Linked DNA regions of Homo sapiens. The protein of the gene in region 2 interacts with the protein of the main gene of each other region in a pairwise test. Each region holds a gene or a part of one and is shown on either strand. Other genes may lie near its edges. The genes, in order: TMPRSS6 and HJV.

The links.
Region 1: the proteins of HJV (region 2) and TMPRSS6 interact in binary tests that used the Homo sapiens proteins (3 or more experiments, as listed by UniProt).

What each region holds. Positions count from the first base shown.
Region 1 is NC_000022.11:37,092,453-37,096,262, forward strand, and holds part of TMPRSS6 (transmembrane protease serine 6), read right to left. Parts: intron 3,639-3,810; coding exon 3,454-3,638; intron 3,141-3,453; coding exon 3,099-3,140; intron 1-3,098. UniProt on the Homo sapiens protein: Membrane-bound serine protease. Through the cleavage of cell surface hemojuvelin (HJV), a regulator of the expression of the iron absorption-regulating hormone hepicidin/HAMP, plays a role in iron homeostasis.
Region 2 is NC_000001.11:146,018,771-146,023,353, forward strand, and holds the start of HJV (hemojuvelin isoform a precursor), read right to left. Parts: upstream 2,966-4,583; 5' UTR 2,817-2,965; intron 1,569-2,816; exon of another isoform or gene 1,551-1,568; 5' UTR 1,462-1,550; coding exon 1,365-1,461; intron 965-1,364; coding exon 405-964; intron 1-404. UniProt on the Homo sapiens protein: Acts as a bone morphogenetic protein (BMP) coreceptor. Through enhancement of BMP signaling regulates hepcidin (HAMP) expression and regulates iron homeostasis.

The DNA.
Region 1 (3,810 bases), on a different chromosome or scaffold from region 2:
ACCCCCACCCCCGAGTAGCTAGGACTACAGGTGCACACCACCATGTCCAGCTAATTTTTTTTTTAATGGAATTTGCTCTTGCTGCCCAGGCTGGAGTGCAATGGTGCAATCTTGGCTCACTGCAACCTCCACCTCCTGGGTTCAAGCAATTCTCCTGCCTCAGCCTCCCAAGTAGCTGGGATTACAGGCATGGGCCACCATGACCAGCTAATTTTGTATTTTCAGTAGAGATGGGGTTTTGCCATGTTGGCCAGGCTGGCCTCGAACTCCTGACCTCAGGTGATCCGCTCAACTTGGCCTCCCAAAGTGCTGGGATTACAGGCTTGTGCCACCACGCCCGGCCCATGCCCAAATCTGATGCCCCCTCCATGAAGTCTTCCAGGATCCCCCAGTCAGGAGCAACCCCTCCCTCCTGTAGATCTGGGACTCTGTGTGAGGCTCTTGATTTGCCCCCTCTTCTGCTTTGGAACGAACAATTCCCTCTCTCCACTGCCTCTGGGGCCTCTATTCTCACACTGGCACCTGGTGTTATGAGAATCTGTTTATGTGTCTGTCTCCCTCATGGGGCTTAAAGCTCCTCCGAGGGCAGGGGTGAGGACACGGTCATCCTGGTGTCCTCAGCGCAGGAATGGGGCCTGGCATGAAGGAAGTGCTCATAAAGTCGACTTCAAGGATTTGAGTTGTTATCTCTGCCCCCTGAGACTCTGTGCTCTGGACATGCACTGAACCAGTCTCCTCATTCATGCTTTCATTCATTTGTTCAATCATTCATTCATGAAACGAACACCCACTGAGCACAGATAATTACAGAACAACTGCCAGGAACATGGGGACACAGAGGCACGAGGCAACATGAGGCTATTACATAGCACTTCTATTGCAGGAGAAAAAATAACTTTCCATAGGACCTTTTCCTTTCCTTTCTTTCTTTCTTTTTTTTTTTTTTTTTTTTTTTTTTTTGAGATGGAGTCTCACTCTGTCGCCCAGGCTGGAGTACAGTGGCACAACCTCACAATCTCAGCTCACTGCAAGCTCCATCTTCCGGGTTCAAGTGATTCTCCTGCCTCAGCCTCCTGACTGGTTAGGACTACAGGTGCGCACCACCATGCCCGGCTAATTTTTATATTTTTAGAAGAGACGGGGTTTCGCCTTCTTGGCCAGGCTGGTCTCAAACTCCTGACCTCAGGTGATCTGCCTGCCTCTGCCTCCCAAAGTGCTGGGTTACAGGCATGAGCCACCATGCCTGGCTGACTTTTATATTTTTTAATAATTGAAAAATGGCCTATGGAGCCAGGCGTGGTGGCTCACACCTGTAATCCCAGCACTTTGGGAGGTGGAGGCAGGTGGATCACCTGAGGTCAGGAGCTCGAGACCAGCCTGGCCAACACGGCAAAACCTCATCTCTTCTAAAAATATACAAATTAGCCAGGCATGGTGGCAGGCACCTGTAGTCCCAGCTACTCAGGAGGCTGAAGCAGGAGAATTGCTTGAACCTGGGAGGTGGAGGTTGCAATGAGCCAAGATCGCGGCACTGCACTCCAGCCTGGATGACAGAGTGAGACTCTGTTATATATATATATATGTCATTCTTGGCTCATGGGCTATACAAAATCAGGCAGCAATTGACCAGATTCGGTGTCCAGGCTGCAATGAGCCAGTCTCTGTCTCCAAGCATCATCTGATTAAGTCCCCCTGAGGCTCTCAGGAGTAATATCTCTGACTTACTATTGGTTGTAGATTATCAACCTCAGACTCTGTAGAGGTAGATGTTAACTTTCAGAAGACTGTAATAAGCTGTCAATGATTTTAATTCACTAGAAAAGACAACTCCAAAGGTTTGAGTTTTCTTGCCTGGTAGGACCTTAACCAGGTTTGTATCTAACTTGGTAATCTTATTCTAGCAATTCTCTTTTTCCATTAATGATTGATGATAGATAGATAGATAGATAGATAGATAGATAGATAGATAGATAGATATAAACAGACAGCTAGCTAGCTAGACAGACAGAGACAGAGAGACAGACAGATAGATAATAGACAGCTAGCTAGTTAGATAACTAGATAGACAAGCAGACAGATATCAACAGAGATGATAGATAGATAGATAGATAGATAGACAAATAGATCAGTTTCTTGCATTCTTTACCATTCTACTCGTTCCCCCATTAATCAGCCAAATAAATATTTGACACATGGTCACTCTATCTTTGTATGAGAATCATGATTTCACCTCTTTGAAAACTGTACTTTGACCTCATCACCTCCATCCAACAAAGAAGCAAGCATTTGACCAGCAGGATGGGAAGACGGGAAGGTAAGGAAAGGTATAACAAGGATTTAAACTCTGCCTCCCTCCCTGAGAAGGGGTTGAGACGCTCACCCCCACCTTGGCTCTGGGTGACAACACTAGATAGTGTGGGAGGAATCTGAGAATTTAGGGGCCATAGAGTCCAGCAGCCAGTTGGTGCACTGCACAACTCACACAAACTACAACTTGGACAGCACCTCCTGCCTTGTGCAGCGTGGTGACTGTGCTGGTCAGCTGAAAGATTGTGGGTCCGCTTGGAGAAATGCAAGGTGACTCTAGCAATACGGCACCAGGTAGGGAGGGAGGGCTGATGAGCCTGACTGGGAAGGAAAGGAAAAGAGGGAAGGAGCGTTCTTGAATGCAATGGCACCGCTACCTCCAAAAGACCAAGTTTTAAAACCAACGTGACTGACAAACCGTGAATTGGCAAGATGATTTTCTACCATCAGTGGAAACTAGCTTGTGGGCAGGTTGAAGTGAATGATAGAGGAGAGTCACGTTCGTGGACCACTAAACCTGACTCATCCTCACACCCACACAGGAACGCATGCACACCCGTCTACAAGACACACACAAATACACGCATGCACGTCGCCACCTCCTCTCCCCCTACAGGCTCCAAGACTTGCTTGGGACACATCGCTGAGTCCACCATGGCATCCCCTGGGTGACTCTTGGCCAGGGCTCCCTGCACACACAACAGAAGCCATGTGTCCCCCTGATACACAACAAAGTCAAGACAAATGCCAACTCAAAAGGAAAATGGGGAGGGGAAAAAAAAATAGCGTACCCAGCGTGGAATTCAATGCAGCTATGTCTTTCACACTGGCTTCTGATAAAAGGAAATGAACAAACAAATAAACAAGAACAAAAAAAAAAAAAAAGAAAAGAAAATACAATGAAAATAAAATTAGAGGAGACCCTTGGAGCCAGCCTTGTCTGAGATTTACCCTAAATGCCCCCATCCCACCCTTCTTTCCTGGCTCCTTGAATGCAATGGCACTGCTACCTCACCTGGGGGGCTCTCCTGGGGGGCCCACCCTGACAGCACCCCAGGCCTGGCAGGCAGCCTCCCCGGGCCACACCACAGCTTGTTTCCCCCAACCTCATGAGGCCAACCCCACGTTTCCACTCGCAGTACTGACCCAGGATCACTAGGCCCTCGGGGTCCACTTCGTACTCGGCCCTGTAGGGGACGGCAGCCGAGCTGTTGACTGTGGACAGCAGCTCCTCCACCAGCAGTGCCTGCACCACCTCGGGGCTCAGCATCAGCCGGCGGTGCTCGGGGATTTGGAGAATGAACCAGAAGAAGCAGGTGAGGGGTCCCTCCCTAAGGCAGGCAGAAGTGAGAGAGGCCAGGGAAGGATTCTGAGGTCTGGCCCCAGCTCCACCCCTGCTCATGCACATCGAGCACTTTCCGCACCTCAGCCATTGCTGTCCGTCTTCACGCAGAAGCCTCCTAGCGACCTCTGAAGGAGGCGCTCTCATAATCCTTATTTTAC
Region 2 (4,583 bases):
TAGTTAGAGATCTGATCCAAGTAGAGATGCAGGACTACTATGGCCCTCAATCCTTGATCCCTTCTCCTATTTATGTTCCAGTATTACCTCATCCCTACTTAACCCCCTCTCTACTTAATCGTGGCAACTTCCTAGGAGAGGGAAAAGTTTCCCTTCTGAAACTCCTCAGGTCCGCCCTCTCCGACTGTCTCTTCAAGGTTTTCTGCATTTGAGTCAAATTCCCATCAAGGGGAAGTGATTTACAGCTCCAGGTGTTTGGTAGAAGGGAGTGATTCGAGATGGGGGAGAGGTTGAGGAAGAAAAGGGAATTAGGGAGCATTGCTGTTGAATAGTGGGGATGGGGAGGAATGGTGCCCGTGGAAGAATCTCATGAGGTGGATCGGAAGGAAGATTGAGTGCCTGACCTTCCGGGTGGCGGTAGCGTTGGCCCCCAACGCCATGGGGGAGCTGGTGGCTTGGACAAAGAGGAAGTCATTATCCAGTAGAGGCCAAGCTCCTTGGACACGGCATGTGTGAAAGTGATGGTGGAAGCTGCGCACATGGGGGTCCCCGAAGGAAGCGCAATGCAAGAACCCCGGGGGACGACCATGCAGCCGGGAAAACCGGCCTTCATAGTCACAAGGGTCCGGGGCAGGGAGGCCGGAGCCCGCGCCTGGAAGGGCGGGGCCCCGGGGCGGGGGAGGGGCTGTAGGGCCCTGGCGGGAGCAGTTGTGCTGGATCATCAGGTCTTCGATGCCATGTACCGCCGAATGGAAGGCGAGGTCCCCGCGGCAGGTGCGGGCGGTGCGCCGAGTGCAGAGCGCATAGGAGCGGAGGGCTCGACAGAGGCCGCCAGAGCCCACCCCTCCACCCCGGCCTCCTCCTCCTCCTCCTCGAAGTGCTCCTGATGAACCCCCACCTCTAAGGCTCAGAGTGGACGATACGTACTCAGCATTGCAGCGGAGGATCTTGCATTGAGAATGAGCTAAAGACAGAAGGGAGAGGATTGTGAGACGGTCCTCAGACCTCTGCTCTATCGGAGTGTAGTTTGCTCATAACTCTTCCAAATCTCATCAGGGGTTTCCAGCCTTCCTAAAACCTAACTAAGGGCCTTCCCCAGCCCCCAACCCCCTAGTCCCTAGTTCTCTCGGCTGTCTTACTAAAAGTGTGTAAGCCTGCCACATCTCTTCTGCCTGTCGACCAAGGGCTTCCCCAGTGGCCTTCCCCAGACTGAACGGGAAATAAAATATTAGTATTTGAGAGCAGGGCGAGTGATCGGGACTCTCAGCGCCTATCTCTCCTCACTCATTCAGGCTCACATGCCCACCCCTACATAGCAGCCTACCCTCTAGATTTCCCCAAACCCTTCCCTGGCCCTTCCTTACCATGTCCACAGAGGAGCAGCAGGAGAGTGAGAGTGCTTAGAGTTGGGGGACTGCCATGGGAGGACCTGGGACTAGGGGACTGGCCTGGCTCCCCCATACCTATCCAGCCAGGTTTCCCAGGCGCCGGTTCTTCCCAGCTGATGACCCTCCTACCTAGTGAATTTTGACCGGAAGCCCTGTAAGTGACTGAAAAAAGAAATTTGGCTGGACATGGAGAGAGAGAAGAATTGAAGATTGGTAAGGATAATGTGGAGTGAATCTGGGGAGATCAAGAAAAGGATGAACAGACTGGAATTTGGGGAGATTGGAGTTCCTCAAACTATAAGTGTGGCAGTTAAGCCTCTTTGCCCTGTTCCTGTGGCCACTTTTAGGGCCCTTGTGCAATACCCCTAGGTGGGGGTGGAGGGAAGGTTGAGTGAACTCAAGGGGGCAGAGTCCACTGTATTGCTCCATTCTGAGCTACCAAACAGCAGGTATGTCAAAGATGGAGGAATCATGGGGCTAGATCAGATACCAGTAATCCTAGTGGGTACCCTAGTAAAATTAGGACCTGAAAATATTTCAGAAACATACTTCTTATTTGTCCCTCTCCATTAGGAGGAGATGCCCTCTAGGAGTCATACATTTCTTTTCCTCCTTTGTGTCAGAACACAAGAAGGATTAAGGGTGGCATACCCATCCCGTCTAGAATATCAGTATTCAAATGAAAAGGAAACCAATCTCTTTTCATCAGCTCTAGAGAGCTGCAATTTTAATCTCCCTCTCTCATGGAATAATGGGATGCAAACCAAACATGCAAATCAATATTTGTTTTTTCTAAGTCAACAGTTCTTGTATTTTCCCAAATATCACTCCTTCCATTAATCTCTTCTTTTCAAATTCTGAAGTTCTCAGTCTTTTATGATGACAGGAGTTGGAGAGGGGCTAAATCCCTCCTGCCTAACTCCCCTATCTTATGGGTAAGGATATGATTGGGGGAAGAGTCCTGCAAGAGGGAGAATAGAATGGAGGGACTAGAGTTGTGGGGAGAAATCATTTACAGGGAGCAGCCCCCATGCTTGGAATCTCAATGTGAAGGGCATTGCTAAGTGGGGGCAGGATAGAAGGGTATCAGTGACTCATCATCTGAGGTCATATTTGGCCTTGGTAAGAAAACTACAGAATAGAGGACGTAGGGAACTCCTTCTAAAACTTCATCAGGAGTCTTGAGGTAATAAGGTAAAGAGAGGGCTAAGACTGCCAGAGGAGAGACAGAGAATTAAACTTCAAAAAGCTAGAGGCCAGAGGCCAGAAAGAAATAAGACAGAAAGAGAAATGGAGATTGGGGCACCTTGGTAGGGAGAGATCCCAGCATTTGGACGAGAGACATCCAAGTAGGTGTTTGTAATTTTATAAAAGTCTAACTTCAATATAAAAGCTTATTAAAGGAATTGCAATTTCATTTTGACTTACTGTTTCCAGAGGTCAAACATTACTCTGCTATCCAATTCTCCAGCCATGATTCCCTACTCTGTGGGTCAGCTCCAGCCAGGGGGTCCTCCGTGTCTCCCCCAGGTCCCCAGGCCGGCTGCTGTCTCACTGAGGTCAGGGAACCAGAGAAGGTTTGGTATGGGGGGAAGGGGGAGTATATGGCTGGCCAGAGTACTGGACAGCTGAGCAGGGAGGGAGGTGGCTACTGAGTTGACGGTTTTAAAAATAGCTAAGTCCAAAATTCCAGGAACGTTGGTGGGGGTAGGGTGTGGGAGTTGGGGGAGTGGGGAGGGTTAGAGGATTAGAAAGAATATGGAGTATTGAGTGCCAAGTCAGGGAGGGAGGAGAGAAATATGACAGACAAGTTGGATATCCAATTCCAGCTTGTGTGACTCTGTGGTCACTGCCTACTCCAGGCAGCCCTCCAGCATTTTCAATAATGTTGAGCTCCTGGCCTTTAAAAATTACAGTGGGCAATTGGATACCTTTCATTTACCATGTTCATCCCTGCTATGCTGAATATTACATTTAGGTTCTACAGATAGTATCTAGGAGGTAGCTGACTTTGAATAAGATCCATAGCAGAGGTAGTTCATAGCCCCTCTCCTATCTTTGCAGAGTATTTCAGAAGGACGAAAAAAGCCAGCTGTCCAGAGAAGAAATCTGAGCTGTGAGTTGCTTAGGATGAGGGTTTGTTCAGTCTATCCAGCTCAGATCCTTGCAGCTGTCTATCCTCCTACCTACTCCATTTTCATTACTTTAGTTTGTACAGCAATTCATCTTCCTCTCCCTCATGAATACACAAAAAATAAAGGCTCCCGATTTGCTTGGAGAGAAGGCTAACAAAGGCAAAGAGGTGAAGAAAGAATGGAAATAGAATTCTTCTAAAGAAAGAGTTGGAGAAATAGAAAAAGATTCAAAAATATACTTTTCCTTCCTTCCTTCCTTCCTTCCTTCCTTCCTTCCTTCCTTCCTTCACTCCCTCCCTCCCTCCCTCCCTCCTTCCTTCCTTCCTTCCGAGATGAGGTCTCACTATGTTGACCAGGCTGGTCTTGAACTCCTTGCCTCAATGAATCCTTCCATCTCAGCCTCTCAGAGTGCTGGGATTACAAGTGTGAACCAACATGCCTAGCCTCAGAAAGATACTTTTATGGAATAACATAATCTTGTGACCATAAATATTGCAAAATCTCAGCACTTTGGGAGCTGAGGCAGGAGGGTCACTTGAGCGCAGGAGTTTGAGGCTGCAGTGAGCTATGATAACGCCATTGCACTCCAGCCTGGGCAACAGTGAGACCCGCCCCCCCACCCCCCTTAAAAAAGAAAAGAGATACTGCAACCAAGGGATTTAGCCATGTCATGTTTTTGCAGCCATAGGTATATCTGAGATCATCATCTTTTAGTACTTGCCAAGTGAAATTAACAGAAGGACCGATTCCAAATACGGTCACTGTATTAGGGTTCTCTAGAGGAACAGAACTAATAGGGCATATATCTATATCTGTATCTACCTCTATCTATATAGAGATCTATATCTATATCCATGTCTATCTATCTAGCCATCTAGACTGGCCATCACCAGTCTGCTTTCTGTCTCTCTAGATTTATTAATATCTATATAGATATGGATATCTATATAGGTAGATATATAAATAAAGGGGAATTTATTAAGTATTAACTTACACAATCACAGGGTCCCACAGTAGGCTGTCTGCAAGCTTGAGGGGCAAGGAGAGCCAGTCTCAGTCT